Homo sapiens: one gene and its partners. The protein of the gene in region 6 purifies or fractionates together with the protein of the main gene of each other region. This does not show direct contact. Each region holds a gene or a part of one and is shown on either strand. Other genes may lie near its edges.

Region 1 (4,514 bases), on a different chromosome or scaffold from region 6:
TGCATCTCTTCTTTGTAAGAGATGTTTTTTAAAATGCATTTTCTCCTCTATACAGAATCTAGAAAAGCATATTAAAAAGAAGGAAATGGCCTGTCCTCTGCAGCTGGAAGAGAGGGGCCAAGCAGCTTCAGGGCCTGCCCGCCGCCCTGCTCCCCCGGCCCTGCTCCCACTGCGCCCCCCCCAACCCTGCTCCCCCAGCCACGGCCTTGCTCCCCCCGTCTCCGCTCCTCCCCGCACCACCCCGCTCCCCTCAACCCCACCCTGCTCTGCCGCAGACCTCAGTTTGCATCCATCCTGTGCCACATACGTTATGTTTAAAGTAAAAGTGTTTTCAGTTGTTAGAGATGAACATAGTGTGCAATTTGGTTTCACACTTTAGTGTTAATATTTGACCTTTTTTGGCATATCGTTAAAATTACAGGAAAGCCTATTTTCAGTCAGTCACACCCGTCGTAGGCTTCATCATTGCCTCATTTTGCATTTCCCTCTTTTTGGACTTTATTAGATTATTTTTCTCTTCAGGTTTTTATGCAGACGTGTCCTGTGCTTGGGTGTGTGCTCATGTGGTGGTGACCGCGCTGAGCCTCTGGGCTCTGGGCTCTAGGCTGGTCGTGACACCAGCTTCTCCATAGGGCCGTCTGCTTACCCCTCAGCCTCTCTGGCGAGACAGTCAAGTGTGTGTCCGGACACCAGCTGCTGCGTAATCGGTGGGATAAAGCAGCCGCCTCGTGTTCACAGACCTGTGGGCAGGGCCTGCTGGGGATGGTTTTCTCTGCTCCCCGTGCCCAGCACAGGCAGCTTCACCCCACGCTGGTGGTCGGCACTGGCCTCAGCCGGACCACGCACAGAGGCCTCCTGGGTGGCCATCGTGTGGCCTTCTCGTAGCGTCCCAGGTGGGCAGGGAGTGTGTGATATGTTTGTGATCTCGCTGTGGACATTGGCCTAAAGCCCTGCCCTGAGCTTTGTCCAGGCTTAGGCGGGGGACGGTGTCCCCCTCAGGGAGCAGGTGGAGTGGAGGAAGTGGCGGGGCCATCTTTGGAGTGGCTTATAGAGAAATTCACTCCAAGCCTGGCTTCCGTGTTGTCTCTCTGAAGGTCGGGAGAGGTGGGCTTGAAAACCTTGTAGCTTGAGAAGTGGGTGCCGCCTGTACGAAGCCGAGGCGGTGCCCTCCCTCTCCACAGCTGCCCGCCCTTCACAGAGTCCTGGCGGCAGCTCGGGGCCGCAGGTGGTGTAGAGCGTGGCTGTGTGGGGTGGCAGGCAACTCCCTTCTGACGCGCTTTCCCGCCACAGGCTTTACTGCAGATGGTGCGTGACGAGAGCCACCAGATCCTGGCGCTGTCAGAAGGCCTTGCACCCCCAAGCGGCGAGCCACACCCACCCCGGAAGGAAGACGAGATACAGGACATCTCGCTCCATGGGGGAAAGACGCAGGTTTATTTTGCCCTTCACACACTTCTTTTCCAAAGGATTTAAGGAGCTTGTGGTAATGGCCGCGTCCTTAGGGCCACGTGGACACTAGGATTTCTTTCTTTTTTTTTTTTTTTTTTTTTTTTTTTGAGACTCGGCTCACTGCAACCTCCACCACCCCGGGTCAAGCAGTTCTCTGCCTCAGCCTCCCGAGTAGCTGGGATTACAGGTGCATGCCACCATGCCCAGCTAATTTTTGTATTTTTAGTAGAGACGGGCTTTCACCATCTTAGCTAGGCTGGTCTTGAACTCCAGACCTTGTGATCCACCCGCCTCAGCCTCCCAAAGTGCTGGGATTACAGGCATGAGCCACCGTGCCTGGCCTAGGATTTTTTTTAGCACGGCCAAAAAGACTGAGGTCCAAGAACCCTGGGGAGGCCTTCCCATCTCCCACAGCCAGCGCAGGCTCTCGGGGCAGGTTCCCTGCGGGACGTGGAGGTGTGTGGGGGGCAGAAGGGCTCAGGGCTTTCAGGCCTGTGCCCTGTGTGAGCCTGCGGGGAGGCTGAGAGTGGTCCCTCCTGGCCATGTGGCCCTGCGGACTCGGCCCATTCCAGCACTTGTCCCCCAGGGCCTCTCCTCCTGCCACTCGGGTGACTTGCCCTCCGGCCTCATTCCTCCCCTTGGGTCTCTCCTACCTCCCCCTCCACACCCCAAGCCCCAGCAACTGGACCTCAGGGCCTCACCTCTGTGCTGTCGACCCCGCACCCCACTTTTCCCCAAGTCCTCCCCATCTCCCTGCCTGTCTGCTTCCATCACCAGGGCTTGTGGAGGTTGTGGAGTGGGTGCCAACTCCCATCACGCTCCCTCCCATCTCCGTGCCCACCCTGTCCTGCCCCTGTGCCTGCCTCTGACTGGGATCAAAGCTTTGTGAGGGAGGGAAGGGCTTTCTCCCTGTGCCTGGAACGCACAGGGTGTGCTGGTGCCATGGAGAGCCGGTGGGAGGGTCAGCCCCACCCGCCTCCGCTCGCCCCTCCAGCAGGCCCTGGTTGTGTGCGAGCGGCAGCCTGGCTGGCATTCAGGAGGCTCATTGGTGCTGCACGCTGCCCCTGGGGACCAGCGGGTAGCCCCTTGCAGCCTTAGGTCCCCTCCAGGCCCTGGGCCTTGAAGGCACAGCAGCAGGAAAAGAGGGAAGGAGCTTTGCTGACATTTTCCTGACCTTACTTTATCGTCTTTTTCAGTCTCTTCTGTGCTCATGATGGCAGCCTTTGCTTCTCGTGCCTTGAATGGCCCTGGGCAGTGTGTGTCTTCTCTTCTGTCAGGGTCATTTCTGTTTGAACGGCTGTCAGTCTGCTCAGCTGCCGTAACAGAACACCCCAGACCAGGGGGCTTAAACAGCAGACATTGATTTCACCTGTTGTGGCATCAGGGTGCCCACAGGGTTGGATTCTGGTGTAGGCGCCCTTCCTGGTTTGCGGACAGCGTCTCCGTGCTGTGTCCTCATATGATGGAGACAGCGAGTGAGCTCTGGTGTCTCTTCCTCTTCTTAAGAGGCCTCATTTACCCTGAATCACCTCCCGCAGGCCCCATCTCCAAACGCAGTCACACTGCGAACTTTAGGGCACAAGGATGCAGGTGCATTTGTGAGGACGCCACGTTTCTTCCTTCTTCCTTTAGGAAGTGCCCACCGCGTGCCCCGATTGGAGAGGGGACCTTCTGCAGGTTGTGCAAGAGGCCTTTGAAAAAGAGCAGGAGATGCAGGGGGTTGAGCTGCAGCCCCGACTCAGTGGCTCAGATCTGGGGGGTCACAGCTCCCTGCTCGAAAGGCTGGAGAAGATCATCCGTGAGCAGGTGAGTGTCAGCTCTGCCACCAGGCCTCAGTTTGCCCCAGGGGTCCAGCCCTGGCAGAGAGGGTGACACAGACTGTTTTGTGTGTGAATTTCGGTTTGTGTGTTTCTCTCGACCGCTGGAATGTGGCTGTCACTTACCCAGGTGTTGACGCTCAGTCCATGCAGGATGCTGCACTTTTCCACCTGCAGCTGTAACAGGACAGGTGTGCTCGAGATGCACCCTCAGGCCTCACTCTTTTCTGAGATAGGTGGCTAAAGAAACGTTCTCCATTCCAAGTAGCCCCTCCTAGGTTGAGAGGTGCTCTGTGTGCAGGGCTGGGTGGCGTTGGTGCCGTGGGGACACTGGAAATCCTGTTCCTGCCAGCATACACGAGGAAACCTAGTGTTGAGAGTAACTGGCTTGCAGGCCTCACGCAGGGTAGTGCAGCCCAGCCCTGACGCCTGCAGGCCCCAGAGCTGAGGCCCAGCAGATACTGTGCACCCATCCCAGACTCAGCAGGCTTGTCCCGGCGGAGCTGGTTTTGAGGGCGGGCAGCAGGGAAGGCCGGGGCATGGGGTGGCTGCCCAATGCTCAGGCTGCTTGTCCCATTGTGCCCCCAGGGAGACCTGCAGGAAAAGTCCCTGGAGCATCTTCGCTTGCCGGACCGGAGCAGCCTGCTGTCCGAGATCCAGGCGCTGCGTGCCCAGCTGCGCATGACGCACCTGCAGAACCAGGAGAAGCTGCAGCACTTGCGCACGGCGCTGACAAGCGCAGAGGCGCGCGGGAGCCAGCAGGAGCACCAGCTGCGCAGGCAGGGTGGGTGTCACTGTCTACACTGCCTGGGGCCCGGCCTCTGCACCTGCCCGCCCGACACTCACCTGTGTGGCCTTGGGAGCAGAGGGTGGTGACAGGGCATCATCTAGTCAAGCCCCTGAGTGTTGCCATGGTTGTCAGCTGATAGGACTGAGCAGAAAGGACCCTGGAGACAGGCAGCGCTGGGTGGGGCTGGCACGGAGGCCTCACTCTTGGGCCTGATGTGGGCAAGAGGGGCCTGGGTTGGGCTCTGAGTGCTGGCAGATTCTTGGGAGCTCATGCTAGAGTTCAGGAATGTCTCGTAGGTTTCTACATTTAATTTAGCTTCTTCGGGAGTTTTTATGTAGATGCTCAGGTCATCTGTGGGTAAGTAACGATTTTTTGTTTCTTGCCCGTGTTCTCTCACGTGCTGTGCCGTCAGCTGTGTGGGCAGATGCCATTCCCTGCTCTTAGTTTTGGGGGCAGGA
Region 2 (4,514 bases), on a different chromosome or scaffold from region 6:
TTGTTTAGAACACAAATGATGGATTTAGAATTGGCAATGCTGCGTCAGCAAACCATGGTTTATCATCATATGACTGAGGAGGAGAGGTAAAAGTTCATTTTGTCTTAGCACACCTCAAAAAGCTTTTCATTCAAAGTCTTCTCAACTTATATTTTTTAAAATTAGGTTTTGATTCTACTGCTGTGTACCTTGTATCTGTTTTGTGAACCAGTGTAGATAAGATTAGTCATAGATAGTGTTTTACTAAGTAAACTTGTATGCCTTCAATATCCTAAGGGTAGTGGTAACCTGCTTTCCCGTGTTTGAGATATTTGTGAGAGGATAGGGGAAGAAAGACTAATGTCCTTGTGGATACACCTATTGTAGTTGATATTGTACTAATTTCTAGAACCTGAGATTTCCATGCCTTCTGTTAGCATATAGTAGTTGTTGAAAGATTTGTGATTAGGAATCTCCAAACTGCATTTTTCCAATTTTGTGCCCTTCACCATACCAATAGGTTTGAAGTTGATCAGCTCCAGGGTTTGAGAAATTCAGTCCGAATGGAACTTCAGGACCTGGAACTGCAGCTGGAGGAGCGCCTGCTGGGCCTGGAGGAGCAGCTTCGTGCTGTGCGCATGCCTTCACCCTTCCGCTCCTCCGCACTCATGGTACGCTACCTGGAGGGTGGTCGGAGTTTTCACCAAAGGTTTATTTATAATGTTCCAATAATTTAGGACGTGTGCCTTCATTTCAAGTCATTTATTTTAATGGTATTAAAAGCATGCATACTGTTTAAGGAGCTTTCCCACAAATCAGTTGAATGTACAATTTGTAATAATTGTCATAAATAGTATATTTAGAAATATGTTGAAAATTTTTAATGATAAATTTTAATAACAGGAAAGAATAAGGGCTTATACGAAAGTTGAGGGTTTTTAAAGGAAAAATGCTAGTGAATTAACATATGACTAATGTAAATTTTAATTGTTGCATGTAACTGCAGAGAACACAGATGCATATTTTGCTGTTTTTTTTTCTTTCATGCCTTTAAATAAAAAAGTGTTCCTTTTAAACTTTTTCTTTATTTTGGATTCTTTTCCATTTGTTTTTAAAGGAATCAAATGATACCTGTATATTTTCATACATATATATACATACACATACATATATGTATTTTCCTAAATATATAGATATATATCCAAGAGAATAAAAAGAAACATGTTTTTGTACCACTTTTCATACTTCTAATGTTTCTTTCCATAACATTTGAACTTCAACAGTTGTATTATTTTTGCAAATATCTTTGAAGTTGTAGAATATGTTGCTTTGAAATGCTGAAATAGTGAATTATTCTTTGTTACCTTAACAATGTATTTGATTTTGTTAAAAAGAAATGGATGAATATACACACATACAATTATGTGTGTATATACTATAAATGAAGTAGAATAAACAATGGTGTATAAACACATATATGTATAGCATAGACTAAGGATGTTCTGTATTGCTAATGAATGTACTTTTCAACATGGTTTTGATTTATCATTCTGAGAAGTGTATGTTGGTGACGGGAGAACTAGAACATCCTTTTTGCATATTGTATCAGTTTTAACTCACAATAATGCATTTTATGGGATCTGTGACACTTGAGAGTAACCTTTGTGACATAAAGGGATGCTTCCAGGCACTAATTAGCCAATTAATTTTATTATAAAAGTCTTGTGATTTGAAAAAATATATATGTACATTATAATTATATATGCATGTATGTATATATACACACACATATACATATATATATTGTTCTTACCTTTTCAGGGAATGTGTGGCAGTAGAAGCGCTGATAACTTGTCATGCCCTTCTCCATTGAATGTAATGGAACCAGTAAGCTTCTTTCCTCTTAAATCACTGGGGAAGGGAATGATACAACATTTCAGACACATAGTTTCCCTAGTTTAGATGAAATATATGTTTATTTTAAATACATAATTTGATAAATTATTGTTGATTGGAAGTGACTTTCACCTTTGAAAGTCCATTGCTGTCTGAAGCCACTAGAAAGCCACCTGAATTGCAATAGTGATTTATCTTTCTGACTAAAGGAGGTAATGCACCATAAAAACATGTACAGTGGCTCATGCCTGTAATCCCAGCACTTTATTTAAATGGTTGAGGTGGAAGGATTGCTTCAAGCCAGGAGTTTGAGACCAGCCTAGTCAACAAAATGAGACCCTTTCTCTACAGAAAATTTAAAAATCAGCCAGGCATGGTGATATGTGCCTGTAGTCCCAGTTACTCAGGAGGCTGAGGCGGGAGGATTGCTTGAGGCCAGGAGCTCAAGGCTACAGTGAGCTATGATTGTGCCACTGCACTCCAGCCTGGGTGACAGAGCAAGACCCTGTCTTTAAAAAATAATAAGCCAGGTGTGGTGGCTCATGCCTGTAATCCCAGCATTTTGGGAGGCTGAGGCAAGTGGATCACCTGAGGTCAGGAGTTGAAGACCAGCCTGACCAACATGGTGAAACCGCATCTCTACTAAAAATACAAAAATTAGCTGGGCATGGTGGCAGGCATCTGTAATCCCAGCTACTTGGGAGGCTGAGGCAGGAGACTTGCTTGAACCCGGGAGGCGGAGGTTGCAGTGAGCCGAGATCAAGCCATTGCACTCCAGCCTGGGTGACAGAGTGAGACTCCATCTCAAAAAAAAAAAGAAAATTGATTTTTAATTTACATTTCAGGAGACATGTGCTTTCACAGTTTGATCCTGGTTCTTTAGGTAGTTAGAGCTGTAACATGACCACGTTTTTAACAGAAATCTGTCTTTATTGTGTTAGACAGATTGGTTCATTTGGGGGCAAAAGCACTATGAGTAACTATTTTTCACTAGTTACTCTTCCTTACAAGTGATTTGGACACTTTGGTGGTAACAAGTAAAATTTCATCCTACTATGTATTCTGTTTACCTGTTTTGTTGCTTCATCTCAATAGGAATTTAAATTTTACTTACCATTTTTGCAAATAAAATTGAGTAGTTATTAAATTAATGGAATAGATTTATGTCTTTACAAATTACATGATTTTAGGCAATAATGACAACCAGGACTTTAACCTTTTTAGCTACCAATCTTAATTCCAAGAGAGAAGAATAACATTTTTTTATGATCTCCAGGTCACTGAACTGATGCAGGAGCAGTCATACCTGAAGTCTGAATTGGGCCTGGGACTTGGAGAAATGGGATTTGAAATTCCTCCTGGAGAAAGCTCAGAATCTGTTTTTTCCCAAGCAACATCAGAATCATCTTCTGTATGTTCTGGTCCCTCTCATGCTAACAGAAGAACTGGAGTACCTTCTACTGCCTCAGTGGGCAAATCCAAAACCCCATTAGTGGCAAGGAAGAAAGTGTTCCGAGCATCGGTGGCTCTAACGCCAACAGCTCCTTCTAGAACAGGCTCTGTGCAGACACCTCCAGATTTGGAAAGTTCTGAGGAAGTTGATGCAGCTGAAGGAGCCCCAGAAGTTGTAGGACCTAAATCTGAAGTGGAAGAAGGGCATGGAAAACTCCCATCAATGCCAGCTGCTGAGGAAATGCATAAAAATGTGGAGCAAGATGAGTTGCAGCAAGTCATACGGGAGGTGGGTAAAATCTGTGTTTCATTCATTTATTTGGAGGTATATGTTAGAGGAGATTTTGTCTGAATATTAATTATTTACAGAATGTTCTTTTGATTCACTGTATTCAATAATTTTCACAGAGCTTTTAAATTAGCTTTCCTGTTGATCAAGTTTGTGTCAATTAAGATATATTTGTAATGGCATTTCTGCAAATTTCATACTCTAATGTGAAATAATTACAATTCTCTGTGTTCAGTATGGTGAAAAAGATATGTGAAGGACTCAAAATAAACATGACGTACTCTTTGGACCTCTTGTTTCCACATCTACAAAATGAGGATTTACAGTTTAGATCTCTTCGAGGATTAAAAACTGCATTTTATAGCTGGACGTGGTGGCATGTGCCTGTAGTCCCAGCTACTCGGGAGGCTGGGGTAGGAGAATTGCTTGAACCTGGGAGGCGGAGGTTGCAGTGAGCCAAGATCATGCCATTGCACTCCAGCCTGGGCAGCAGAGCAAGACTCCATCTCAAAAAAAAAAGAAACTGCATTTTATAATTACAATTGATAGGAGAAAATGATTTTGTGATTTTAATAAGTATAAATAGATTGATTTGGTTTGGTGTTTTTTATTCAAAAATCAAAATATACGAAGAAAAGAGGGTTTGCCCTAGGTGATAGCAGCATAAGAACTTGAAGAATTACCATAGTTATGGATGACCAAAAGAACTGCAAAAGGAAATTACATATGATTAGTAGTGAAAGTTCAAAAGTTGAGAAAATTAGTAAAATAAATGTTTTTTGCACTGAGATCAGGTAATAGGAAGGAATAGAATATATCGTTTAAACAGCTCAATGCAATTATCTCTGTTTACCTAGTAGTATTCTGTGGATTAAATTGTACATAAGCAAATGTGAAA
Region 3 (4,514 bases), on a different chromosome or scaffold from region 6:
TCACACCTATGATCCTAGCACTTTGGGAGGCCGAGGTGGGTGGATCACCTGAGGTCAGGAGTTTGAGACCAGCCTAGGCAACATGGCAAAACCCCGCCTCTACTAAAAATACAAAAATTAACTGGGTATAGTGGCGGGCACCTGTAATCCCAGCTACTTGGGAGACTGAGGCAAGGAGAATCACTTAAGCCCGGGAGGTGGAGGTTGCAGTGAGCTGAGATCACACCACTGCACTCCAGCCTGAGCGACAGAGTGAGACCCTGTCTCAAAAAGAAAGAAAGTAAATAAAAGAAAGGAATCGCTTGTTTAAGATTTGAAAAGAGAAAACCTGAGGCTTAATGGCACTGTGAGGTCACCACATAGTCCTTGGACCACATTGCGTTTTCTTTCCTCCTCCTCAGAGCAAACAGATCTCCAGAAATGGATCTTTGCAGTCACAGGCAGAAGAGAAATGACTGTGTAGTGTGATGCAGTTGGGTTTGATATTTCTTAAGATTACAGTTGTCAATTAAAATGACCAGAGGATGAAAGCTGGATCTACTCCTTACTCCTAGCACACCCTAAGCTTGACCACCTCCTCCTGGACCCACACCTCCCTCACCTTTGAAATACTTGACAGTCTTCACTTTCAGCTCCAAGGTGGCATCCTCGTCACACACAAACACGGTGCGGGGATGCTGCTGGAAGGCAGACACGGTCCACATGTGGTTCACTCCCTCCTCGATGGCCTTGTACAGAGCAAATGCCTTGTGAGCACCTGTGATAAGGATCATCACCTGGGGATCAGAAAACAAGTCTGTGATGGAGGGGAGCATTCCAGACACCCTAAACAGTTGTAAGGATGATTGTTTTTCATATCACATTGTAAGTGGTTACCATGCAACATACTTTTGCTCAGTGCTCCCTGTGCTTTATCACACAAATAACCCGAGGCAGGCAGCATCATTATCTCCATCTTATAAGAAAACAGAGCCCCAGGGGGTTAAATAACTTGCCCAGGGTCATTTATGACCCCAAAGTTCATGTTCTTGACTACCACGTGACAGTGCCTCCAGGTATCTTTGATGATGACTATGAAGGTGCCCTGTAAACAGACATGCCATGCCCAGGCCTGCTATCCCATCAGCTGGGTGACTCTACACAAGCACAGTTTGTGAAAGAGGGCTCCCAACCTGCACCACCAGCAAGGGCACTTTGCAAGCAATGGTGGGAGTTATCTGTGGGGCCTCTAAGGCTGAATCCCAGAAAGGTTGCCCCATTATCTGGTCACTTTCAGTTCACAGCATTAAACCTATGAACTAATGTGACTTGGGGTGATGGTTTTTGTTAATATATAATAAAACAAAGGCACAGTCTCCACTTAACAGTTAAAATATCGAGAATGTAAGTGATCTTAAAGAACTCAGCTCTATTCAAGGGCAGGAAAAGAGAAAAAAACTCAGTTCTGTAGATTTCCTTTCATTTTAATTCACATGTGCCACAGAGTTGTGAACAGGATTTACTGTTCCTTTCTTAAAAGATTAGAATGCAGAAGCAGAGAGGGAATGTGACTATTTCTTCCGGACCCCTCAGCAACCCAGAACTCTTTAGAAAAGATAATTTCCTGATTTCCAGCCCCAGGTCCTTTCCCAGATCAAGATGCCCTCATGATAAAGACGGCCCTAAACCTGTTTCCAAGCTGCAGAGCTAAAAACAGCGAGTAAACACCCCCACCCCACGTACTGATTGAAGATTACCCAACAGAAATCTGGGTGCCATCACTCATTTCACAAAAGTTCACTTTAAACAGGGAAGTTTTCACTGATTTAGATGCTTGTTTATTGGCTTGGGCAAAGAAATGTAAATCTAACATGTCTATACACGTCAGAAAGGAAGAGAAAATGCTTCTAAAGTTCTAATGAAAATAAGGAAATTGGAACCACAAAAAATTCACATTCAAATGATAGCCAATTTTTTAGGGGAAAAGCTAAATTCAGTTTAAAACACTTATATTTTAATCATACTTCACCACATTTATTAATCTCTGAGCACGGGGCTAGAAGCACAAGCATCCTTGGTGTCCCAACAGTGACCTCTACCAACTACAAGGAACAAGGGAACCCCTCTCTCCATACCTGGTCAGGTACAAATATTCCAACATTAGCGATGCTGGCCTCCTCTCTGCCTGTGAAAAGCATGAAAGGGGCCTGAGGCCAGAGAGCCTGCTGTCTCAGGCAGTCAGCCAAAGGCACCAAAAACGTGCTCAAGGGATTCACCTCACACTGGGAATAATGATGTCTTCCAAAGACGCAAGAGGAACAGTGAGTAACAGGGTCAGCAGGGATTTTAGCCTTATTTACCATGCCTTCATCTTTAATAAGAATGTAGGTGGTACCAGTATAGTTAAGATTAACAAGAGAAAGACAAGTCCACCAGCGCAAGCTGGTGGGGCCCTTATGCCCTTACCTCTCTAGCATCCATGACAGTGCCCACCCCCACCGTCAAGGCCATGGTGGGCACCTTGGTGAGTTCTCCATCGAAGAACCTAGCATTGGCCAGGATGGTATCCATGGCCAGCGTCTTCACACGGGTCCTGGACACCAGACTGGAGCCTGGCTCGTTGAAGGCAATGTGTCCATCAGGGCCGATGCCTATAGGGAGAGAGCCCGTGCAGCCCTGTCAGTCCCAGGGATCCAAGATTTCAAGAATGGACAATCTCTCCTTCCCTAACTAGGGTCTGAAGAAAAATCATTGAAAGCTGTGTCACCTTTCTCATTTGCAGCCCTGGGCAGGTACACCTTAAACATGTGATCTGTCCCCCTCCCTACCATTTCTTTCTCTTTGCCATACTGTCTCAGAGGAGACCCTCCCCATCATGTCTATCTGAGGCACACACAGACATTGTTAACTTGCTATCACCCTCAAAAAGCTGAGGAGGAAACACTCCAAACAGCTTCTGCCTCCCCAGATTGTCAGAAAAGTGGACCTTCTCTGTCTCTTCTGCCTGTAGTTAGAGGGTCCTGCTGCTGGGATAGAGGTGCAGTGAACAAAACACCCAGAGAACCTGGACAGGGGCTGCCAAGGTTCTAAAATCTCAGAGGATGAGAGGTCCTGCCCCCCTCCTCCCCACCTTGAAGTATAGAAGAGTGATCTCTAGAGCAATAAAAGGCAGTTCAATGTTACCCCTCATGGGTAACTCCAGAGGTGGCGATAGATGGATACACAGAAGGGCAGCCCAGAGGACCCGAGCACAAATCCAAGAAGCACACACTTGCTCCCACCTGTGAACCTTGAGTGAGTCACCTAACTTCTCTGGGGTTCAACTGGCTATCTACAGGGGCTGTGTGGAGCCTTCCGGAACTACATGAGTCCATGATGTTAAATGTTTAGATAAGTTCCAGGACTGATCCATAAAACCTTAAGACTGGGGAGTAGACAGAATCTCAGAGTCCAAACCCAAACCTCTCAGTTTACAGACAAGGCATCAAACTGCAGAAAGAGATCTCCAAGATAACATAGTTCCTGAGTAACAGAGCCAGGCAGGGCCCATTTCTCCCGCCTCTGTCTCTACGGTCACTAGCACACCCAGAAGAAGCTGTCTGCAGACAGGCATTGTGTCTTGTCCTCCTTCCCACGGGTCTGGCCCTGGACATGTGTGCTGCAGAGTGTCAAGCTCACCTCCAACAAATAGCTCGATCCCACCTGCAGCCTTGATCTTCTCTTCAAAGGCATCACATTCTGCCTGTAGGTCGACTGCATTCCCATCCAGAATGTGGGTGTTTTCTGGGTGGATGTCAATGTGCTTGAAGAAGTTGTTCCACATGAAGGAGTGGTAACTCTCCGGGTGGTCTCGAGGAAGGCCTGTGGGGCCGTGAGACACTCGGTTATGCCTAGGCCAAGCCAAAGCCCCTCTCCTAAGAAGGATGCCAGGACACCATGCTGACCTACAGAGACACTCCCAGGGGTCTGCCCATCTGGGAGCCTTAGGCACCAGCCCTCTGACCCCTAGCCACTCGGCACAGGCTGAGCCAGTATCCATAAGTGTCCACCCACCCAGTACCACCATCTGTGGCCACAGGGCTTGGCCAGAGTAACTGCACACCAAGGGCCTGGGAAATCCCCACATTCTGATCTGATCTGCTTTTCATAAGGCAATGACCATAGGTTAGAGGCTGGGGACACTCTGGCCACCTGGGGTAGGGCTGAACTCATCTTAGAAAGCAAGCAAGCACACCCCTCACCCTGTGCCTCTCAACCCACCATCCACTCCCAGTTCTACCCCACTCAGCCTGAATAAATCCCAGCTTGAACACCAGGTGGTTAGAGAGAACTATCTTAGGGCTTCCCCAGATCAACTTTTTTTTTTTTGGCCAGGAAAAAAAAATAATGTTTAATGTTAAGCATTAAGAATATGTAAAATCAGCCTTAAAAAGGAAGGAAATTTTGACACACACTACAACAATGGATGAACCTTGTGGACTTTATGCTAGGTGTAAGAAGCCAGTCAAAAAGACAAATACTTTATGATTCCAGTT
Region 4 (3,500 bases), on a different chromosome or scaffold from region 6:
TCAAGAAGAGAAATGACTGAATGGTATACTTACTTTTGCCCTATGGATTTATTTGTAAAAGAACAGGATCTATTAAAATGTATAAGGTAGGGCCATGTGCGGTGGTGCACGCCTGTAATCCTAGGAGTTTGGGAGGCTAAGACAGGTGGATCACTTGAGGTCAAGAGTTCGGGACCAGCCTGGCCAACATGGTGAAACCCCGTCTCTACTAAAAATACAAAAAAATTAGCCAGGCATGGTGGCATTCACTTGTAATCCCAGCTACAGTAATCTCAGCTACTCAAGAGGCTGAAGCAGGAGAATCACTTGAACCTGGAGGGGGCAGAGGTTGCAGGGAGCCGAGATTGCTCCACTTCACTCCAGCCTGGGCGAAAGAGTGAAACTCCATCTCAAAAATAAATACATAATAGTAATAAGGTAAAAAGTTTGCTTAAATACTGTCTTAGAATTATTTGCCCATGTTTGTTCTTTTTTTGGTGGGTAGTCTGATGTTGACATTGTAGAACTTGCGAGGCTTCCCATTTTTCTCTAGTCAGATGTTTTCCTTTCCCTTAGTCCTCACGTTATTAAGACTACTTGTGTCATAATCCTGTATGATTATTGATGTGAATGATGTTTTCTTCTAAGCTTCAGAGTAACTTTGCTTCTTAACATTCTTTGTATACTATTCATATTTTAATATTTTTATCTTCCTTTCTACTTACCAGTTTTCTAATCTTTGCCATCCTTTTTATTTACATTTCCGAAGCAAGAGCTATCATTTTTGTTGGTTATTGGAGTCAGTATAGGTTATAAGTACTTTTTGGAACTCTTCTAGGTAAGATTCAGTGAAACTTTGGAAAATGTGTGATAAAAATTATATGAAAGCTATGGCAGGTGCCAGGGGTATTATATATCCTTCTATGATTTCCACTTTGTTGGTTTTTTTCTCAGGGGTTGGGGGGCGGGGGGACATGGTCTCACTCTGTTGCTTAGGCTGGAGTGCAGTGGTGCAATCCTAACTCACTGCAGCCTGGAACTCCTGGGCTCAAGGGACCTTCCTGCTTTAGACTCTCCTGTAGCTAGGATGACAGCATGCATCACCACCCCTGGCTAAGTTTCCAATTTTTTGTAGAGATGGCGGTCTCACAAAAAGACCCCAGGCTGGTCTCAAACTTCTGGCCACAAATGATCCTCCTACCTCAGCCTCCCAAAGCACTGAGATTACAGATGTTAGCTACTGTGCCCAGCCCTGAACCCCACACTGACTCATACTGTTATCCTTGAATTGGACTTGATTGCTAAAATTTAAGAAATCAGATAGTTTCTGTGCTCATTTTATAAGTTGTATATGCTTTTATCTAAGGGTCTAGTTTGAGTTAGGTTTTGGAGCCTCCACTGTTTACAGTGAACCGTTGTTTGGTTATGCTGTTTGTTTATATTGGGGTAATTTCATTCTTTAAAGTAGAATGATCACGGATTGATCTTAAAAAAGTGGTAGTATCCATTTCTCCAGAATTCATACTCAGCTGATTTGGTTCTTTTTAGTCTTTAGAATATAATTGTTTTTTGAGTTTTTATTTTGTTTTATTTTTGAGACAAGGTCTCGCTTTGTCACCCAGGCTGGAGTGCAGTGGTGCCATCTTGGCTCACTGCAACCTCCGCTTCCTGGGTTCAAGCAGTTCTCTTTTTTTTTTTTTTTTTTTTTTTTGAGACGGAGTCTCGCTCTGTCGCCCAGGCCGGACTGCGGACTGCAGTGGCGCAATCTCGGCTCACTGCAAGCTCCGCCTCCCGGGTTCACGCCATTCTCCTGCCTCAGCCTCCCGAGTAGCTGGGACTACAGGCGCCCGCCACCGTGCCCGGCTAATTTTTTGTATTTTTAGTAGAGACGGGGTTTCACCTTGTTAGCCAGGATGGTCTCGATCTCCTGACCTCATGATCCACCCGCCTCGGCCTCCCAAAGTGCTGGGATTACAGGCGTGAGCCACCGCGCCCGGCCTGGGTTCAAGCAGTTCTCATGCCTCAGCCTCCCAAGTAGCTGGGATTACAGGTGTGCACCACCATGCCTGGCTAATTTTTGTATTTTTAGTAGAGATGGGGTTTTGCCATGTTGGCCAGGCTGGTCTTGAACTCCTGGCCTCAGGTGATCCGCCCATTTTGGTGTCCCAAAGTGCTGGGATTACAGGCAGGAGCCGCCGCACCTGGCCTTACATAACTGAATGTTAAAGTTTGATGAATTAAGTATAATAGTCATATAATTCTTACTCTTTTCTTTTAAAATTGCTTTTAATAGCATACTACCTTTCTTTACTTATTCTGTCCAGGCTTTCAAGTGTAGCACTCAAAACAGATGAATAGTTTTTCCTTTAAAGAGGGGTCATATACTTGGGGAGAAGTTTCAAGGTACAATTTATAATGATTTACCTAACATTCAACACATGTGCTTTTTGTTGTTTTTGTTTTTTTTTTTTTTTTGCTTTGAGGGTTTGTTTTTGTCTTTAAGCATAGCATAATGTCCTGTTTTATTATGATTTCATCTGAGAAATTCTGCTCAGATGAAATTTCTTACCTTTCCTTTGGGGAGCAGGCCTCCCAAGAGCAATATGCCTGGATTTCAGCCTTTGCTCACCCTTGGCCAAGCATTCTTGTGCAGCAAACAACATGGAGCACCCTGCATGGTACACATTCAGATTCTGAACTTTGTACTAATTTGGGATTGTTTTGAAAAGTGTGTAACAGCAAAAGTAACATACATTTAATAAAAACTATGTATATCAAAATTCTAAAACTAAAAATATAGCAGAAGAGATAAAATAGTGTTTCTGTTGCAGAATAGTATGAAAACCTGATGAAAATAAAATTTTTACTGTAAGTATAGTATTTAAAAATTACTGGCTAGTTTATATTTTTATATAATACTTTACATTAAACTTTATTGAATTAATAATATCTATCTCTCTATCTATCTATATATTCTTTATTTTTGGATTGAGAAACATTAGCTTATTTGCCATAACATTTAGAGCATTCTGATCCTGTAATTAATGTGTTAGTATGTCATACAAATAATTGTCTAATGCTTTGTCTTAACAGTTCTGTACATCTTGTAATTAAGCTTTCGGTTTTTCCTACTTCCTCAGGTACTTTGGTCTAGGAAGCCATATGGTTCGTCTCGAAGTATCGTAAGGAAAATTGGTACTAATTTGTCTCTGATTCAGTGTCCAAGAGTTCAGTTTCAGGTATTATATTTTATATATTTTAAGTATTTTATTAATATGTACATTAGAAATATAAATAGGCAAGATGGTTTTAAAAGCATTTTGTTTTTGAGACTTTTCACCAATTGATGCCACTATCAATACAATAGAAGAGGATTAAAAACCACAGTAAAGCCTTTCTAATTTTAGTTTCTCTGTGACGTGATTGAGATTTTTAAGATATTTATCCTTCTTAAGGATGCATATGTGAAGATTTAGGAGCATATAATAAGCTAAGCAGTTGTTAATTCCTAGGTGACCTCA
Region 5 (3,653 bases), on a different chromosome or scaffold from region 6:
TCGACCGCCTCCCGCACCTTCACTCCAAATCCAAGCCCTCCACCACGCCCACTTCCCGCTGTGGCTTCTGCAACCGCCCAGGCGCCACCAACACCTGCACCCAGTGTTCAAAAGTCTCATGTGACGCCTGCCTCAGCGCTTACCATTATGACCCCTGCTACAAAAAGAGTGAGCTGCACAAGTTCATGCCCAACAACCAGCTGAACTACAAGTCCACCCAGCTCTCCCATCTCGTGTACAGATAGACCGGCCTCGCCCCTTCCAGCTCCAAGGGCTACATCAACCGACCTTTCGGGTTTCACGGTGAAGAAGTACTAACGCATTGATCTCAGAGGCGGAGGCCTGCACTTGACCATGTAGGTGGCAGAGATCGTGGGCTGGCTGTGTCCACGTGGGAGTTCACTTAGCGACTCAGATATCTCAACCAATGGCTGCTTTGTTGTCTGACAAGGGAGAAGGTGGCACTTCCGTTCAGATTCATTTTGCTAATCTCTCCACTCCCTGTTCAGTTGGTTCTTTTTTTGGGGTTTTGTTTTGTTTTGTTTTGTTGTTTTGTTTTTTCCTTTAAAGAGGATTTCTGTCTCTGGGACCCTCGCTGCACCTACCCCTCCCATTGCAAAGCCAACTTGGACTGGGAAGGGCCCTTCAGGTCACCAAACATCCACCTGGAGCGGCGAGCTAGAGGCCTGTTGGCTTGTGAAATGAGCCCTCCTGCCACACGGGGCCTCTCCCAAAGGCTCATCCCTTGGCCGCCCCCTTCCTAAACACAAGGATCCCCAGCTGGACTCCCCACCCCCTGGCTTCCCCACCTCTCCAGGTGTCAAAGGTGAACCGAGTCCAGTATTAGCTGAATGTCATTTCGTACACCACAGCTCAGTCAGCCCATGGCCTTCGTGAACTTTGCTCCAACACACTGATGTGTGGGCTTCCCACAGCAGGACTGACTTCCCCCTTTCTGTTGTTTGCACATGCCCCTCTTACTGTACTGTCAATAGATATTTTTGAGATTTATTTTTAAATAAATATTCAACTTGCTGTGTGTTTCAACGTGGTTAAAAAAATGAATTATGTAGCTATTTATTAAATGCCCTGGGTTCTTTAGTCTTCCAAGGGAGGGCCTCGCGCCCATTCGTGTTGTATCCTCCACTCACTATGGCCCGAGGGGAGAGGAGAGTTTGGGGCAGGGAGGAACAGACATGAAGCCTCCTTTTCTTGAGCTGGTGGAGAGCCACTGTCTTCCCTGCAGTAACTATCTATACACCTACCTCCAGTGTGCACTTAGGGGGTGAGCGCGGGTGTCGAGGTCTGTGTGTCTGCAGACTGCTAACCTATGACAATTCAGGGACCTCACCTGTCGGACCTATAGCTTGCTGAGCAGGAACCTTGCACTTCACACTTCTTGAGTCTCGTTTCAGAAGGAAAATCATTTGGGATTCCTACTGCCCCTCCATCTCAATCCTCTTCTCTTCACCAGTTTCCAGGACTCATCTGCAACATTTGCAATCTTTTTGCACTAAAAGTGGGCAGGAGTCGGCATGTGCCCATCAGAGAGACGGCTCCTCAGATGCTCAGCTAAGCCTAAGCGCTTCCAAGCCTGAAGGCCCCTTCAGCTTCTCATGTGAATTACCAACCCCTGGATTTTCCTTGTGGGGGTACAAGAGCAGGAGTGGGGCAAGAGTTTGAAAATAAAGCCGCTTCCTTGTGAACTAACTATATTTTAGCCATAACTGTTTGTGATGTACACAATGTTAAGGGATTTATATGCAGTGGGCTTTTCTGGGAGAAAGTTATTCAGCTCTTGAGCAAGTTTAAGTCTGGCTGAATCCTGAGGCCACTGTGAATTTGCTGATGTTCTTCCAACTCAGTTGAGTGATTTTAAGGTTTTCCAAATCTTCTATGGCTCTCTTTTTAATATATATATATATATATATATATATATATATATATATATATATATATATCTATCTGGTAGATCACATGTAGATGTACAGTGTGTATATTAAGCTGAATTTCAACCAACTTTATTACTAAGACCAGCCTAGCAGGGCATTCATCTTTGATGTTCTTCCTTTTCACATTTCAGAATCGGCAATGCCTGGCCCACTCCTGAGAGCTCTAGTTTTCTAGTTTTCCATTTCCAGATTGCGCCAGCATTACAGTAACTAACTCTTTCTAACCAACCGTGATGCCACGTAACTTACCCTATGGACAAAAGCAGGAATGACTAACACATCCTAGGAGGGAAAGTCCAGTGTACCTGTCATCACGGACGCACTGTGGTCACAGACTGGAATACGAAATACTACAGCCCTGCTCCCAGGTGTGCATCTTACTGGATGAGGTTGCTGTGATTGAGATAGTTAAATACATGCTAATTTAAAAATGCAGATGTTTTACATTTGATTTCTACCAAGAGTTGAAATGTTGAGAGATGATTAAAAATAATAATAATAAAGTGTCTTCCATTGTTAAATGAAGTGTTTGGGGTTTTATGTCCCCTGGCCCTGCTTTGAAGTTTGGTTACTTGGGAGTTTATTTTTCCTTAAGCTGTATTTAGTTTTTTAATGACAAGACTTAAATTTTCTCTTCCATGAAACTGACAAATAGCATTTGAGTGCTATACTGCGAGCCTGGCACTTTTTATTTTTTTAATTTTTTGTAAAAAAAATTTTTTTTTTTTTCGAGACGGAGTCTTGCTCTGTCGCCCAGGCTGGAGCACAGTGGCGCTATGTCAGCTCACTGCAAGTTCCGCCTCTTGGGTTCACGCCATTCTCCTGCCTCAGCCTCCCAAGTAGCTGGGACTACCACACCTGGCTAATTTTTCGTTATTTTTAGTAGAGACGGGATTTCACTGTATTAGCCAGGATGGTCTCGATCTCCTGTCCTCGTGATCTGCCTGCCTCGGCCTCCCAAAGTGCTGGGATTATAGGTGTGATCCACTACGCCCGGCCATGTTTTTTTTTTTTAGTTTAAGACGGGCTCTGTTACTTCCCAGTCTGGAGTACGGTTGTGTGATCATGGCTAGCTGTAGCCTGGACCTCTTGGACTTGAGTGATCCTCCCACCTCAGCCTCCCAAGTAGCTACAGGTGGGCACCACTATGTCTGGCTAATTTTAATTTTTTGTAGAGGTGGGGTCTCACTATATTGCCCAGGCTGGTCTCAATCTCCTAGGCTCGAGTGATCCTCCCGCCAGGCATTTGTATCCTGAGACTATGTGCATGATCTTACTTACTAGCTTCAGTCATCCTATTAAATAGGCACTGTTACCATCTCCATCTTACATATGGGGAAATGGCGGTACACAGAGTTCAGATGTTTCCCAAAGAGGGGACTGCATCATCCAGGAGAAATGCTTGTTAGTAGAGACAAAGAGGCATTAATAACATTGGAAGATGTTTTTTAAAAGTTAATTCCATTTGAATTTTTTTCCATCCATTTAACTGTCTTGAGGAGGGAGTCAGTTCGATGCTACCTTGTCTTTAACAGAGAAACCTGGCATCAGACACAGCGTGTGGCAGGCTCTTAGCCAGGTTTTGTTACCTTCTAGGGCAGGCCATACTACTTTTCCATTGTAACAGTGATAGGTTTGCTTTAAAAATCAATTTAAGGGCCGGGTGCGGTGGCTCACGCCTGTAATCCCAGCACTTTGGGA
Region 6 (4,965 bases):
AGTAACGCCTACATCATAAGGTCAATGTTCAGATTCAGTGTGAAAATGTTACCCAGTCTGGCAGCATGCCTAGAACGTATAGGTAGGCCTCACTACATAATACTAAATTATTAAAACTGTACTTTTATTATTTTCTTATTGTCGTTTGCTGTTGATGCTGTCATTATTACTACCAACCAAGAGTATATTAGAGGTCCTTTCTGCTTTATAACATTAGGTTCTTCTTGTGAGGCCTTAAGCATTTGCTAAACAGGTTCAAGTAAGTTTAGTAAAGTTTCATTACTGCCATTGATTCAATTATCAAACTGCTTTTGTACATATAAAGAATTCTTCAGATGCATGGTTTCTATTAACAAGATCCAATGCCTTCCTTTTATTTCCCCTTCAGTTCAACATCTAATATATAAAGATTGCTCTGACTACTACGCAATAGGCAAAAGAAGCAGTGAGACCTACAGAGTTACACCTGATCCCAAAAATAGTAGCTTTGAAGTTTACTGTGACATGGAGACCATGGGGGGAGGCTGGACAGTGCTGCAGGCACGTCTCGATGGGAGCACCAACTTCACCAGAACATGGCAAGACTACAAAGCAGGCTTTGGAAACCTCAGAAGGGAATTTTGGCTGGGGAACGATAAAATTCATCTTCTGACCAAGAGTAAGGAAATGATTCTGAGAATAGATCTTGAAGACTTTAATGGTGTCGAACTATATGCCTTGTATGATCAGTTTTATGTGGCTAATGAGTTTCTCAAATATCGTTTACACGTTGGTAACTATAATGGCACAGCTGGAGATGCATTACGTTTCAACAAACATTACAACCACGATCTGAAGTTTTTCACCACTCCAGATAAAGACAATGATCGATATCCTTCTGGGAACTGTGGGCTGTACTACAGTTCAGGCTGGTGGTTTGATGCATGTCTTTCTGCAAACTTAAATGGCAAATATTATCACCAAAAATACAGAGGTGTCCGTAATGGGATTTTCTGGGGTACCTGGCCTGGTGTAAGTGAGGCACACCCTGGTGGCTACAAGTCCTCCTTCAAAGAGGCTAAGATGATGATCAGACCCAAGCACTTTAAGCCATAAATCACTCTGTTCATTCCTCCAGGTATTCGTTATCTAATAGGGCAATTAATTCCTTCAGCACTTTAGAATATGCCTTGTTTCATATTTTTCATAGCTAAAAAATGATGTCTGACGGCTAGGTTCTTATGCTACACAGCATTTGAAATAAAGCTGAAAAACAATGCATTTTAAAGGAGTCCTTTGTTGTTATGCTGTTATCCAATGAACACTTGCAAGCAATTAGCAATATTGAGAATTATACATTAGATTTACAATTCTTTTAATTTCTATTGAAACTTTTTCTATTGCTTGTATTACTTGCTGTATTTAAAAAATAATTGTTGGCTGGGTGTGGTAGCTCACGCCTGTAATCCCAGCACTTTGGAATGTCAAGGCAGGCAGATCACTTGAGGTCAGGAGTTTGAGACCAGCCTGGCCAAACATGTGAAACGCTGTCTCTATTAAAAATACAAAAATTAGCCGGGCATGGTGGTACATGCCTGTAATCCTAGCTACTTGGGAGGCTGAGGCAGGAGAATCGCTTGAACCTGAGAGGAAGAGGTTGCAGTGAGCCAAGACTGAGCCACTGCACTCCAGCATGGGTGACAGAGAAAACTCTGTCTCAAACAAAAAAATAATAAAATTTATTCAGTAGGCTGGATTCTACACAAAGTAATCTGTATTTGGGCCATGATTTAAGCACATCTGAAGGTATATCACTCTTTTCAGGCTATAATTATTTGGGTAATCTTCATTCTGAGACAAACTTAATCTATATCATTTACTTTGCAACAGAACAACCCTACAGCATTTTGGTTCCCAGACTAAGGGAACTAATATCTATATAATTAAACTTGTTCATTTATCATTCATGAAATATAAAATACTTGTCATTTAAACCGTTTAAAAATGTGGTAGCATAATGTCACCCCAAAAAGCATTCAGAAAGCAATGTAACTGTGAAGACCAGGGTTTAAAGGTAATTCATTTATAGTTTATAACTCCTTAGATGTTTGATGTTGAAAACTGCTTTAACATGAAAATTATCTTCCTCTGCTCTGTGTGAACAATAGCTTTTAATTTAAGATTGCTCACTACTGTACTAGACTACTGGTAGGTTTTTTTGGGGGGGGTGGGTAGGGATATGTGGGTAATGAAGCATTTACTTACAGGCTATCATACTCTGAGGCCAATTTTATCTCCAAAGCAATAATATCATTAAGTGATTCACTTCATAGAAGGCTAAGTTTCTCTAGGACAGATAGAAAACATGAATTTTGAAATATATAGAACAGTAGTTAAAATACTATATATTTCAACCCTGGCTGGTAGATTGCTTATTTTACTATCAGAAACTAAAAGATAGATTTTTACCCAAACAGAAGTATCTGTAATTTTTATAATTCATCAATTCTGGAATGCTATATATAATATTTAAAAGACTTTTTAAATGTGTTTAATTTCATCATCGTAAAAAGGGATCATCTCAGAGAGAACAGCAGTATTCTGCGTATTTTTAAAAATGCTCTAGAGTAACATTTGAAGTAATTCACTGTAGTGTATGCCAGTCCTAGAAATAATTTTTTTAATTTCTGGTGTCTGTTTCTAATACACTAACCAAGTTTTCAAAATATATTTACAAAGATGCATCTTTACCCATTATTTTAAAATGATTAAGGAGGATAGTTGCTTCAGGTAACAAGCTAATTTTTCAAATATTAGGCCCTTACAGAACTATTTAGTCAAAAAGTAAGATATTCCTTTAAAATATATAACCCAAAGCTTTCAGTTAAACATGATATATCACAAATACTATTAAAATGTTAAAGAGAAATGCAAATAGCATTAAATGATGACCAAAATGTAAAATATTGTAGATTTCAAAAGCTGTGTCTCTATTAGGTGGGATACCAAATGTAAATGATGTAACTGACGTTGTTTTTTACTTTTTACTTTTTAAAAAAGACTAAAAACGTTTTGATATTATACAATGTATTTGTTTCAGATAAGGTCATTGTCATTTAGTATATATAATTAATATATGTACAAGTTTAAGTAAATTCCTGTGAGTAAAAATGGACTTATCACAAAACATAGTTCTAAAGAAAGGTATATGCTCATATACACGGTGTCCATTAATTTAATGGGAACTAGGTATAACTTCAGGAGAATTTGGCAAATAATTCATTAATCCATGTAAATATTCAAAAGCTTGTTCTATCCACATTATTTCAAGGGATCACTTTATTTTTCATTATACTTTCACAGCACTTTTCTAGTAAATTCTGTAACACAGAAATTCCATTTTGGAATCATTTCATGTTACCAATAATTCTAGACTTTTATAACATTTAACATGTTGATGGAAATAGATTACATCTGCTAGAACCTTTTGCCTTAACTATTCACCAATATATGCTAATATTCATAAATATGGATTGACTGTTTACAAACATTAGAATCTTGTCTTGGTTCCATTTTGATGGCTAATATTTGTTATCTTAATTAAGACTATTTCTGAGGTCATGATTACTTGAAAATATTGACTAAAACTGGGTCCTTAGAAATTCCAGGTGGAGCTGATTTACCTATGACTGAGGGGAAAAAAAAATCAAATTTTACTGATAATAGTAATGCTCCAAATGAATTAATGACACATCTGTTCAATAAATAAAGAGCTTAAATATACAAAACATAAGAAATCTGGGCAACAAAACTTGTGGTCTTTACTTTTGAATAGCTACCCAAGAAAAGGTTTTAAAGGTAAAAGTTATGAGTAATGTCATCACAATAAGCTCTTGTTTAAAATTCTTTTCTTTTATGTATAATTAGGTTTATGTTTCATGTCTTTTTAAAACCTTATAAAAGATTTAATTATCACATCTATTCTTCAATGTGGAAATATTAAATATTGTTGGTTGTAAAATAATATTTATGTACTTACTTGTGTCTGAAAAGTTGTAAAATGCTTACCTCAGCTATACAATATCTGTGACTCTGAAGACTTTAATGAGTACTATTTCATTAACAAGAAGTCAGAGGCAAATAGAGGAACACCATTATCTTACTTCCCTCTAGAATACTGTTGAAACATTTGAAATACAAAAGTTTCAGTTTCATTTTGTGGCATTCAACTTCCTCTCCTCTTTTTCCGTTATTAGTGTTGCTGCTCTGGTTAGCCCTCTTCATCTCCTTAGGACAACACAAACGCATCTGAATAGTCTGTACCTCTGGTTTCAGTCTATTCCAGTCCAACTTTCATCCCTACCAGGGGGATTGTTCAAAAGTACAATTCTGATCATGTTATTGTCCTGCTTAAAAAACTTTCAACAACGCCTTCTTTTCTTTTTTTTTATTATTTTATTTTATTTTTTTTAGAGACGGAGTCTCACTCTGTCGCCCAGGCTGGAGTGCAATGGCGAGATCTCGGCTCACTGCAACCTCTGCCTCCTGGGTTCACGCCATTCTCCTCTCTCAGCCTCCTGAGTAGCTGGGACTACAGACGCCTGCCACCTCGCCCAGCTAATTTTTGTATTTTTAGTAGAGACGGGGTTTCACCATGTTAGCCAGGATGGTCTCGATCTCCTGACCTCGTGATCCACCCGCCTAGGCCTCGCAAAGTGCTGGGATTACAGGCATTAGCCACCGTGCCCGGCCAACAATGCCTTATTTTCTACAAGATAAAATCTGGCAAATAAGTCCCTTCATGAAATGATTTTTACCACTACTTATACTTCTGCCATACTAAACGCCTTGTTGTACACAAACAAACTACGCTTTCTAATGTTTTCATTGCCTTTAGTATACTGTTTCCTTGGTCTAGATAGAATGCCATCCTCTTTCCTCACTGGGTTTTGTCTTATCACCCATGATTAACAGCAGGAACTCAGG
Region 7 (4,514 bases), on a different chromosome or scaffold from region 6:
GTTTCATTCATCCAATATTATTTCAATTAAAAGCACAGTTTTCAAGTTTTCCTGACAAAGGAAAAACATAAAAGACATTTAATAAGTTATAATCAAGTATTATGTTTCAATTTTGTTGTGAGTTTATTACATTTGAAAGGGTGTAACACATTGCACATAATGAAATAGCTGTTATTTCCTTTGGAGGGGTTAAGGTAAATGGAGTACAATCTGAAGTATGCTCTGTTTTTTCCTGCAAGCCTCTGAACATTACAGCTGTTTACAGTATGCTGCTGACAAATTCAAAGTCAGGTGGTGAATCTTTGAGTAAGCCCATTAGCTAGGAAGAGATTATAACACTGTTCCCTGACTATAAACTTAATCCTAGTTAGCAGCTTTCTAACTCCCTTTTACAACAGGGAAGACTCAGTGGGAAAATGTAGAAAACCCAATGCAACTCTGCACCACAAGAGAGAAACAACTGAGAATATCATTGCTAGGTGGAAAGGAAAGGACTTTTTATTTAAGCATTTAATATACTAGAACCAGCCAGCTTCTTAAAGGAGTTCATTATTCCACATCATCAATCACTTTTAGAAGAGAGGAAGAATTTACAAAAAGAGGAGCTAACCATATATCACATAAAAAGAAATTTCTAATTTAAAAGAAAACCCCCCAACTACACAGACACACATTTCAGCTAATACTTTGACATGTGAATATGCTCTTCAGTTATTTTTAACGCATATAAGTTAAGATGGTCACCTTTTTCTTCAGAGGTAAATCCTGATGCAGCCTCCACCTTTTCAAGTATTTTCCTCAGTTTCATAATTTTTGTGGCACACACATATCCATATCTAAGTTAGTAAAAAACTATTAATTGATATTGGCATGTATTAAATTATATAACACATCTTAATCACATATTTCTTTTTTTCTTTTTTTTTTTTGAGATAGAGTCTCACTCTATCACTCAGGCTGGAGTGTGCAGTGGCCCGATCTCAGCTCACTGCAACCTCCGCCTTCCAGGCTCAAGAGATTCTCATGCCTCAGCCACCAAAGTAGCTGGAATTACAGGCGTGCACCACCACATCCAGCTAATTTTTGTATTTTTAGTAGAAACAGGGTTTCACCATGTTGGCCAGGCTGCTCTTGAACTCCTGGCCTCAAGTGATCCGCCCACCTCGGCCTCCCAAAGTGCTGGGATTACAGGTGTGCGCCACCACACCTGGCCAACACATTTCTTATACAACTCCAGTATGTCATAAATCAATAGGTTAGACAATTATTTTTGAAGAAAACAATGATAAGCTTCTTCTTGAAGTTTGCAAAATTAAAGATCTAGAACCAGAATTATCCTAGACACTATTATATGCTCTACAAGTAACTGTCATACACTAAGATAAAAAATTTTTAGGTTTGCTGTGACTGATTTTTTAAATAATATTTGCTTGGGAAATTAAAGCATTTACTTTATAAAGCAGAATATACAATTTTGAGAGAGAATATCCTTTTAATACTGAAGTGTGAAACAGCCACCAAGGGAAATGGGAAAGGGAATTTATAAGAAACTGAAAATCTAAAATCTGCAATCAAACCAATTGGCATAATGATGACATTTTCTCTCTTCTTTGTCTGAATGCAAGACACATTCAATCAGTTTAATATCACTTTAAATTTGTAATTCTAAAAATGGCTTCAGAGGAGAACTTGGCGGCTACCATAAGTTTACTAAGGACAAGTCAGAACTAGCTAATTTTATATCCACTTTTTATACTATTCATTCACTCATTAGTTTCCTGCAACCAATACAGACTGAGAATCTACCACTTACATAGTAACGTAACCTGTCAGCCACTGGGAATACAAAATGAGTAAGGTTAAAAAGACAGGGTCTCTGAAGAAAAGCAGAGATTTCAGCACCAAATAAAACCAGTCAGCTATATACAGATATGAATGCTACAGACACAGGGAATCCTGATCACAACAGGGCATCTGACCAGTTTCTTACCGTGGACAGGGTAAGAAAGTGTGATTAACTATGATTCTTAACTGGCTGAACAATAGGATCCAAAGAATGTTTATTCTTCCTCTCTTCTAGGAAGGAGGTGTTAACATGCCTTAGAGTTTCGGGTTTGACCTGTCTTGTTCCAGTATCAATTACTTGGGGGAAAAAAATCGTATGTTTAAAAATTTGCATAAGACAAAATAGTTGATGTGAAAATCAAGATTCACAATTATCTTAAAGAGTAAGATCATTAGAGAAATCATTACAGAATTTAAAGAAAGCAAAAGATATAAGTGAGGAAATTTATTCTCTTATAATTTACTTTCCTAGTCATGTGATATAGCAGATAATTTGGAATCCTCATTGTATTTGAGTATTCTGCTTTTTTGGTTCAAATTTGATATCAAACTATTTTTTACTTTAATTGATAAATAAGAACAGTATATAAAAGGATTCAAATTTATCTTAATATGGACTTTAAATAAATCACTTTCTCTCTATATTCCTGAATGAACAAATTTGTTTTATGATCTATGGTCCTAATTCTTCATAGTTTAAATTTTATAATGTGACATTATCACATATCACTACTACCACTTATTCAAAGTCTTTACTAGATATCTCCTGTCACTTGTGCTTGTACCATTACAAATTGCTTCCTGTGGCCATAAAAAGACATATTTATAATTCCTAAAGTAGGAAATGGAAAAAGAATCACCTTTTTAAGGCAGGTGGAAAGAGGCCAAATATATTCCTTTAACCAAAAAATATGGTACTAAAATACATCTCATCTGTTGCTAGTCCAAAGTATTAAACACTAGCTATTCTATAAAGAATTTCCCTTTCTCCTTTTCTTTCAGATTTAAGAAGCTAGACTACACCAATTTAACTAATAAGCATGATTACTTGTAGCAGAAGTGTTGGAATAAACTATTTCAAAAGATAAGAATCCTAAGTATTATGTATTAGCTTTCCTAAACATACTGCAATTGCTAAATTATAGTTTACTCTAGCAAAATAGGTTAAATCATTTCATGGAATATGCTATGTTCTACACCTTGGCCACATTTAAGAAATTAAATAAGCAAAAAAGTACAAGGACCAAAGGTTTAAAAACGTAATATTTTACCATAAGAACTAATTTTCACCCATCTCTTATTACATGAAGACAAGGTATAAATTAATTACTATACCAGAAAACAGCAAATAGAACACCATGTAAAGGCAAAATAGCAATTTGTTTTCTACTTACATTCTCAGAGGATTAACAATTTCTGTCCTCAGTAGCTCTTGGGTTTCACTATAATATTCTACATCGTTCTTTTCTTTGGGTCTAAGTAACACAGTGTCCAGAACAGAACTAAAAGCAAATAAGCTGCAAAAGAAAAAGGATAATTTTCTTCATGCTGTAAACATATTTTTCAAGAAACAGATTTTTAACAGAATTAGAAGAGGAAAATAAGTAAAGTCTGGAGAACAAATAACATAACAATTTGTGTTTTTCATTAACACAGGTACCAGGACCCCTGTGAAGATACCCATGGTTCAATCATCAGGACCTACAGATCCTTCCATGTTAAGGACAACACCAATAATACTGAGAAAGCAAACGGCAGATTGGCAGTGTTAAAGGATAACAACGTGCCAACAGAATATTAAGAAAGAAAACTTCTTTGCAAAAGTTGATAGAGAGACTACAAATATCAGTCAAATTACAAACAGACAACAGAGGACAGCATTTGGAAACGACTTCCCGAGGCAAGCACTATTCAGTGCCCCACTTCCCTCTCCCCATGCCCCTTTGCAAAGATCTATTACATTAATAAATTTCTTTAAATGCTAAAATCACTTATGAGTGACTAACAGGCCAGGTGCGGTGGCTCATGCCTGCAATCCCAGAACTTTGGGAGGCCGAGACGGGTGAATCACCTGAGGTCAGGAGTTTGAGACCAGCCTGACCAATATGGTGAAACCCCGTCTCTACTAAAAATACAAAAATTAGCCAGGCATGATGGAGTGCACCTGAAGTCCCAGCTACTTGGGAGGCTGAGATAGGAGAATCGCTTGAACCCGGGAGGTGGAGGTTCCAGTGAGCCGAGATCACGTCACTGCATTCCAGCCTGGGCGACACAGCGAGACTCCTTCTCAAAAAAATAAACGAGTGACAGCAGTAACTTGCTGTTATCAAAGAAAAAGAAAATTTAGCTAATATAGATTTTTATCAGGAAATCTAAAGAATATTATATCAATGCTACAAGGTTTGTTTTTGTCAAAGTATTCTGCAAATAAAATGGCCGCCACTTTATTCTTCTTCCTACTTTAAAAATGTTAACATCCCATATTAACTTCCTAATTCTTATCATATGGCTACAGAACTGGCAGGCTACTCTCAATTTAGCCCAGTCTACAATCCTCAGAGCCTAAAGATTCTTGGTTCAATTTCCAGAGCTTAAAGATCCTTGCAATGTTAAGGCTGGGCGTGGTGGCTCATGCCCGTAATCCCAAGCACTTTGGGAGGCCAAGGCGG

Evidence for each region.
Region 1: the proteins of FGL2 (region 6) and PCNT purify together in Homo sapiens (affinity purification with mass spectrometry; 3 studies listed by BioGRID and IntAct, with this or other methods). This does not show direct contact.
Region 2: the proteins of FGL2 (region 6) and ITPRID2 purify together in Homo sapiens (affinity purification with mass spectrometry; 3 studies listed by BioGRID and IntAct, with this or other methods). This does not show direct contact.
Region 3: the proteins of FGL2 (region 6) and GNPDA1 purify together in Homo sapiens (affinity purification with mass spectrometry; 3 studies listed by BioGRID and IntAct, with this or other methods). This does not show direct contact.
Region 4: the proteins of FGL2 (region 6) and MTFR1 purify together in Homo sapiens (affinity purification with mass spectrometry; 3 studies listed by BioGRID and IntAct, with this or other methods). This does not show direct contact.
Region 5: the proteins of FGL2 (region 6) and SPATA2 purify together in Homo sapiens (affinity purification with mass spectrometry; 3 studies listed by BioGRID and IntAct, with this or other methods). This does not show direct contact.
Region 7: the proteins of FGL2 (region 6) and CYLD purify together in Homo sapiens (affinity purification with mass spectrometry; 3 studies listed by BioGRID and IntAct, with this or other methods). This does not show direct contact.

Annotation. Positions count from the first base shown.
Region 1 is NC_000021.9:46,424,541-46,429,054, forward strand, and holds part of PCNT (pericentrin), read left to right. Parts: intron 1-1,290; coding exon 1,291-1,431; intron 1,432-3,081; coding exon 3,082-3,255; intron 3,256-3,854; coding exon 3,855-4,050; intron 4,051-4,514. UniProt on the Homo sapiens protein: Integral component of the filamentous matrix of the centrosome involved in the initial establishment of organized microtubule arrays in both mitosis and meiosis. Plays a role, together with DISC1, in the microtubule network formation.
Region 2 is NC_000002.12:181,918,797-181,923,310, forward strand, and holds part of ITPRID2 (protein ITPRID2), read left to right. Parts: coding exon 1-86; intron 87-499; coding exon 500-650; intron 651-1,800; coding exon 1,801-1,866; intron 1,867-3,151; coding exon 3,152-3,616; intron 3,617-4,514.
Region 3 is NC_000005.10:142,002,487-142,007,000, forward strand, and holds part of GNPDA1 (glucosamine-6-phosphate deaminase 1), read right to left. Parts: intron 3,841-4,514; coding exon 3,658-3,840; intron 2,631-3,657; coding exon 2,446-2,630; intron 777-2,445; coding exon 602-776; intron 1-601. UniProt on the Homo sapiens protein: Catalyzes the reversible conversion of alpha-D-glucosamine 6-phosphate (GlcN-6P) into beta-D-fructose 6-phosphate (Fru-6P) and ammonium ion, a regulatory reaction step in de novo uridine diphosphate-N-acetyl-alpha-D-glucosamine (UDP-GlcNAc) biosynthesis via hexosamine pathway.
Region 4 is NC_000008.11:65,679,234-65,682,733, forward strand, and holds part of MTFR1 (mitochondrial fission regulator 1 isoform 1 precursor), read left to right. Parts: intron 1-2,810; exon of another isoform or gene 2,811-2,847; intron 2,848-3,119; coding exon 3,120-3,218; intron 3,219-3,500. UniProt on the Homo sapiens protein: May play a role in mitochondrial aerobic respiration. May also regulate mitochondrial organization and fission.
Region 5 is NC_000020.11:49,902,211-49,905,863, reverse strand, and holds the end of SPATA2 (spermatogenesis-associated protein 2), read left to right. Parts: coding exon 1-245; 3' UTR 246-2,473; downstream 2,474-3,653.
Region 6 is NC_000007.14:77,192,409-77,197,373, reverse strand, and holds the end of FGL2 (fibroleukin precursor), read left to right. Parts: intron 1-388; coding exon 389-1,095; 3' UTR 1,096-4,005; downstream 4,006-4,965. UniProt on the Homo sapiens protein: May play a role in physiologic lymphocyte functions at mucosal sites.
Region 7 is NC_000016.10:50,783,177-50,787,690, reverse strand, and holds part of CYLD (ubiquitin carboxyl-terminal hydrolase CYLD), read right to left. Parts: intron 3,833-4,514; exon of another isoform or gene 3,502-3,832; intron 3,363-3,501; coding exon 3,240-3,362; intron 853-3,239; coding exon of another isoform or gene 837-852; coding exon 745-836; intron 1-744. UniProt on the Homo sapiens protein: Deubiquitinase that specifically cleaves 'Lys-63'- and linear 'Met-1'-linked polyubiquitin chains and is involved in NF-kappa-B activation and TNF-alpha-induced necroptosis.